2 separate regions of the Homo sapiens genome follow, and region 1 is reported to be linked to region 2. The links are microRNA targets in miRTarBase. Many come from high-throughput screens and were not tested one by one. Region 2 holds a microRNA gene; the other region holds the end of a gene's coding sequence.

Region 1 (3,000 bases), not on the chromosome of region 2:
GTTAGCTGAGATCGCACCACTGCACTCCAGCCTGGGCGACAGAGTGAGACTCCGTCTCAGAAACAACAACAAAAGGTGTTCCTTCCTGTGGGTAGGATTTAAAAGAAAAAAAAAAAAGGAAAATGGGCAGCCTTAGGGCTAGCAAACACCCAAGTAATAGGTCAGATTTAACAAGGCAAGGCTCGCTCCAAAAAAACTGTAGAAAAGCCTAACGGAGTAGTTCAAGGCAGGATCTTAAAGTACTTCTGTTATGCTTTTCTACAATGTTTTTGGTATTCTATAAGCCAAAACCCTTTACCTGTTTTAATTTGTAAGAAAAACTAGTGATTTCTTTAAATATATCATTACAACGAGTATTCAACGATTAAGAAAATCTGTGATTTGAAAACATCTATTACCACCGTCCGGGGTGGGAAGGTTGGGGATGACAACTAACTAAACACTGGCAGATGGTTCTATGGTTAAAAGGCTTATCAAAAACTCATCTATTCTACCTATACTTCAGAGTTAAAGGCAAATCTGTTCATCACCGTTTCAGGCCTCCATCGTGTAATGACCAACAGCGCTCAGGTGGCTCCTAGTCCTTCCCCATCCCCCAAGGGTTATCAAAGCTTCTTTGCCGTCAGTTCATGACACATCACTATCCTCTGCATTTGCTTTTACTGTATCCTCACTATTCCCTATAAACTCTGCTCTGGCAGTCCGTGCAGAGATCTATGATCCCATAGGGCTTGTTTTTAAAGGATTCTTGCCTACTGATCAGCCCACAGGCAAAACAACACACCAAGTGTACAGAGGTTTAAATTCTGTTCCAAGGATCCCTATTTAGTGATAACCTCAACAAGGTCTGTTCTCCGGCCGTTTTCACTGTTGCCAAGTCAAGAGTTGCCCCACACCACCTCTGAAGACTATACTTAAGAGGGCAGAATGACAACAGAATGTATATGAAAGCAAATCTGGAAAATACATACCATACTAGATTTAGTTGTAGCTTCTTTTTTTGGGACAAGTTTCACTTGTCACCCAGGCTGGAATGCAATGGCGTGAACTCAGCTTACAGCAACCTCTACCACCTGGGTTCAAGCAATTCTTCTGCCTCAGCCTCCTGAGTAGCTGGGATTACAGGTGCCCACCACCAAACCCAGCTAACTGTTTTATTTTTAGTAGAGATGCGGTTTCACCATCTTGGTCTCAAACACCTGACCTCAGGTGACCTACCCACCTCGGCCTCCCTAAGTGCTGGCATTACAGGTGTGAGCCACCACACCTGGCCTATCTGTACTTTTTTTAACCTCATACGAAGAGTTAAGAATTACGTATTTGCTTTGATTCAAAGGATATTGGATTGTTTTTCCCTTAAACCAATATAGTCAAGCAACTTCAAAGGACATAGATACTCAAGCAGTTATGTCTCAGGTATCAACCAACAATGAACCACATAATGGTCCCATATTATATACTGTACCTTCTCTTTAGATACACAAGTACTTACCATTCTATTACAACTCCCTATAGTATTTACATAATAACATGCTGTACAGGTCTATTGCCTAGGAGCAATAGGTTAAACCATACAGCTTACATAGGTAATAGGCTATGCCACTGAGGTTTGTGTAAGCACTCTCTATGATGTTCACGCAAGAAAACTGCCTAACAATGTGTTTCTTAGACTGTATCCAGTCAGTGGTGACCCATGACTGTATTAAACAAAAATTCAAACATTTCACTTAAAAAAAACAACTTTGGAAGATCAAATATGGAATTTTTTTTTTTGAGACAGGGTCTCACTCTGTTGCCCAGGCTGGAGTGCAGTAGTGCGATCTGGGTGCGCTGCAACCTCCACCTCCCAGGTTCAAGCGATTCTCCTGGCTCAGCCTCCCGAGTAGCTGGGATTACAGGCACCTGCCACCACACCTGGCTAATTTTTTTTTGCATTTTTAGTAGGGACAGGGTTTCACCATGTTGGCCAGGCTCAAATGTGGAAATTCTGTAAATAAAATTTAAACCAGAATTTAATCCATGTGCTTCAAAATATTTTCATAACTGAGATTTTATTGGTTGAGGATCAGTACAGACATTTCAATTTGTACACAAATCTTAACATACGTAACGAAATTCTAAAAAGCCATGTATTGTAATTCTTTTTTAAAGTTATTCCAGTGACTTTCCAGCTTAAAATTTGGAAGCAAATTTTCCTTAAGAGGCTATCAAGTACCAGTATCTTCACGTTGGTCAGCTGTTACATACGGCCCACCAGTTCACAACTCAACAGCACGTACACTACATGTTCAAATCTGTAATCTTTCACAGCACAGTAACAAAGTTATTAGGAAAACAGGACTACCACAAAGATGTTACAGAGTGCACACAATTCTGGCAGAGAGAGCCATGATCAAAGAGTGGTTTTCTTTAGGAAACAATTCTACTAAAAAACAACATGGTAATAGAAGTAATTTAAAATGTTCAAGACATTAAATGCAGGACTGACTCCATATTGCCATTTAATATGCTTTGTATTATAGGATATAAAAACTAACCCCCCATCTGTGGAATGTTAAGCTGACACCCGAGACAGTCAGAGCCTCCCATAATTCAATATCCCACACTATTTTCTGGTTGTACCAAAAAATAAACAACCAGCAAATGATTTCACCTCTTAAAAAAAAGCATTTACACTTAAAAAATGGGATGAGGTGGGATTCCCTCCTTCTTAAAAATGTTTCTAGAGCTACTAAAAAACTTGCATTTACAAAATAGTTGATAAAAATATTCCTCTGGATTGTACAAGAAGGGAGACAGGGACCACTGATAAGACATGGTATATGGTTATTAATCAGACTTGGCTTCTTTCTCTCCTGCTTCATCAGAGGCTGGACTCTGCAAAAGAAAGGAAATTGAGATCTTTAGCATTTAACACGTTGTCGTTTTATTTATATGCAACTATCAGGTCTTTAAAAAAGTCAATAACCTTTGTTATTTGTAAAGTCACCTACCTACTCT
Region 2 (3,000 bases):
ATGTGAGGGTAAAACCATGTTGCCAGGCAGAAAAGATCTCATTTATGCAGAAAGGCAGCACCCGGCTGGGACAGTCAAACATTTCTACCATGCTAAAACATGCGCCAAAGACCCAGAGCCAAGAGCCCAGGAAAAAGCCAAGAGATGCCACTCCTCCCACTGCCTGCTTTCAGATGAAGTGGACACTTCAAATGGGCGAATTTTATGGTATGTGAAATATATCTCAATAAAACTACAGAAGAAAAATAAATGTCACACGTACAACATAAAGTAAAATCATACATGTTTTCTAGGCCAGTGGCATAGAGGTATACAGGCTGAAAAGAGAGAAACTCTGAAAGTTATTTATTTATTGAAACAGGGTCTTGCTTTGTTGCCCAGGCTGGAGTGCAGTGGCATGATATCAGCTCACTGCAACCTCTGCTTCCCGGCTTCAAGTGATTTTCCTGCTTCAGCCTCCAAAGAAGCTGGGATTACAGGTGCACCCCATACCCAGCTAATTTTTTTTGTATTTTTGGTAGAGACAGTGTTTCACCATGCTGTCCAGGCTGGTCTCGAACTCCTGACCTCAAGTGATCCTCCCGGCTTGGTCTCCCAAAGTGCTGAAATTACAGGCGTGAGCCACCATGCCCGGCCTGAAAGTCTTTTATTAAGCAAAAAAAGCCACTACATGAGTAGTTTCTCAAAAAGACCAAAAGCCGTGTGACCAAGTGACATGGCTTCCTTTCTGTCTGGCTAGGTCTTGTCTCTGACTTAGGTCTCATTTCCCCGAAATAGCACTGGAAGCAAAAAATAGTGTGATGGTTAAAGAGCCGGCTTTAAGTAACTCGCCCAAAGTCACACAAGTTATAGATCTGGATTTGAACCCAGGCAGTCTGGCTCCCTGGGTTCCAATCCAGATCTATAACCTGTGTGACTTTAGGCAAGTTACTTAACCTCTCTGTGCTCTGTTATAAAATGGGATACACGATTGGGTTGTTGCGAAGAATAAATAACATAATCTTTGAAACGTGCTTCAAAAAGCATCTCTTGCTTGTTGGAATTTATTTGAAGTTGACTATGTTTTTTTAAAAAAGCCTCCCATTAGGACATGCTTTTTTTAGAAGGCCCCAATCATTTCATCCTCCCATTTGTCAATGATCATTTCTATGTTGCAAGCCATCTTTAATCAGACACCAGGTAGTAGTTGATCTAATGCTGACAAGCCAAGTCCTACTCCCCTTCCCTGACATTCCTTTTCTGCCATTGTGAGAACTATAGAACATGGCTCAGAGGTTGTTTTCAAAGGCTGAGGTCATTGCTATCATTCCTTCATACTCTCACAGATTAACTCCAAACTGCAGAAGCATCTTGGTTTCCCATCATCCTGCAGACTGGGCAAACAGATAGGAGCTTAGGAAGGCCTAATCAGAGAACAGATGCTCATTTCATGCTAAGAATGTGCTAGCACTGTACGTGAATAGTTTCATTTCATTTTCACACAAACCCCATCTTGCAGACTATTATTATCCTCTTTTTCACATGAGGAAATTAATGACCAGAAAAGTTAATATGTCAAGGTCACACAGCCACTGAAAAATGGAGCCAGAATTCCAACCCAGCTGTCTTCAGACCCTATTAACTGCCATGTTATATTACCTGCCCCTCCCTAGAATGTAAGAGTTTACAGCTAAGGCCCTCTTTAACAGTAGCCCAAAGCAACAGAGGTCAGAAATTCTGTCTTATCTATCTATGTCCTCGGTGCCTGGGACACCGCCTGCCATGTGATAGGAACACAGAATGTCCAACTGCTTAACTGTGCTCGGAACATGTCATGTAGAGTTAAGTGAATCCTCCAGTTGCAGAGTCTATTTTCTACTTGTAAGACTATTTATTTATTTACTTATTATTTATTTATTTATCAAGATGGAGTCTCAGCTCTGTCGCCCAGGCTGGAGTGCAGTGGCACGATCTCGGCTCACTGCCACCTCCACTTCCTGGGTTCAACGGATTCTCCTGCCTCAGCCTCTTGAGTAGCTGGGATTACAGGTGCCCACCACCATGCCTAGCTAATTTTTGTATTTTTAGTGGAGACGGGGTTTCACCATGTTGGCCAGGCTGGTCTTGAACTCCTGACCTCAAGTGATCTGCCCACTTCAGCCTCCCAAAGTGCAGAGATTACAGGCGTGAGCCACCGCGCCAAGCCAACTTTCTACTTGTAAGACAATTTAGAGGGGTTTAGAGTCACAGAGATCTTAGTTAGAATTTGGTAGCTATGTGATCTTGACAAATGTATTTAACTCATCTGAGTCTTGTGTCCCTAACTTGGAAAATGTGGTAAATATATACTCATAGCATTATTATCTGGATGGAATGAAACAATGATAAACATATAATAGGTGCTCAATGAATATTAGCTGTTACTATTGCCTCCCTATCCTTTCTTCCAAATAGGTCTTTGTGATAGGTCAACCATGAGTTAGTTCCCAACTCAAAATAAGTGAAGCAGAAATTGGAACTCAGAGTAGAGTAGTAAAACTAGCATTAAATTGGAAATTGGGAAACTTGTCTCCTGGCTTTTGTTGCCCTTTCTCTACCCAGCAACTATGTAATCTTGGTCAAATCACCTTACTTGTCTGGGCTTCCAATTTCATATCTTAAGTTACAAAATTGATCTCTGAAGCCTCTAGGATTCTCTGAATCCATATGTCTGGGACTAAGAGATTATGTCGAGGAATTATTACCCTTGGTTTGATTGTTTTTTAAACAAATTAACTTGGGGTGGTTGGAAAACACATTGATTATTTACTCATCTTAGAGTTACACGTTGTTCATTTATTTGAAACTGAAACGTATTTCCTCCAAACACCGTAGAAACTTAAAGGCCGCAAAAGACTCACACCCACCACCTAGCGGCGAAAAAAGGAAGTTTCAGGTGATACAAGATGTCCTGCCATCACACCTGAAGGATGGTTGTCCACAGCCATTTTTTAAAATCTCGTATTAGTCCTCTTCCTTCAA

What was found. Region 2 holds the annotated microRNA hsa-miR-607 (GUUCAAAUCCAGAUCUAUAAC, at 846-866, opposite strand). A microRNA usually pairs through its seed, bases 2 to 8, with sites in the 3' UTR of a target mRNA and lowers its output. Matches are read on the target gene's strand: a 7mer-m8 pairs with bases 2 to 8, a 7mer-A1 pairs with bases 2 to 7 and ends in A, and an 8mer does both.
Region 1: the mRNA of HMGN1 is a reported target of hsa-miR-607. Seed matches in the 3' UTR shown: 7mer-m8 at 2,288-2,294.

Annotation. Positions count from the first base shown.
Region 1 is chr21:39,340,283-39,343,282 of GRCh38, forward strand. It overlaps HMGN1 (high mobility group nucleosome binding domain 1), which reads right to left. Exons shown (of 6, transcript NM_004965.7): 6 at 2,033-2,877. The coding sequence ends at 2,830. Among named protein-coding and RNA genes, the nearest start is that of HMGN1, 7.3 kb to the right of the region's middle.
Region 2 is chr10:96,827,839-96,830,838 of GRCh38, forward strand. It overlaps MIR607 (microRNA 607), which reads right to left and starts at 926; the gene lies at 831-926. It overlaps LOC102723665 (a long non-coding RNA gene), which reads right to left. Exons shown (of 1, transcript NR_135921.1): 1 at 2,794-3,000. RefSeq lists a cis regulatory region at 2,808-3,000.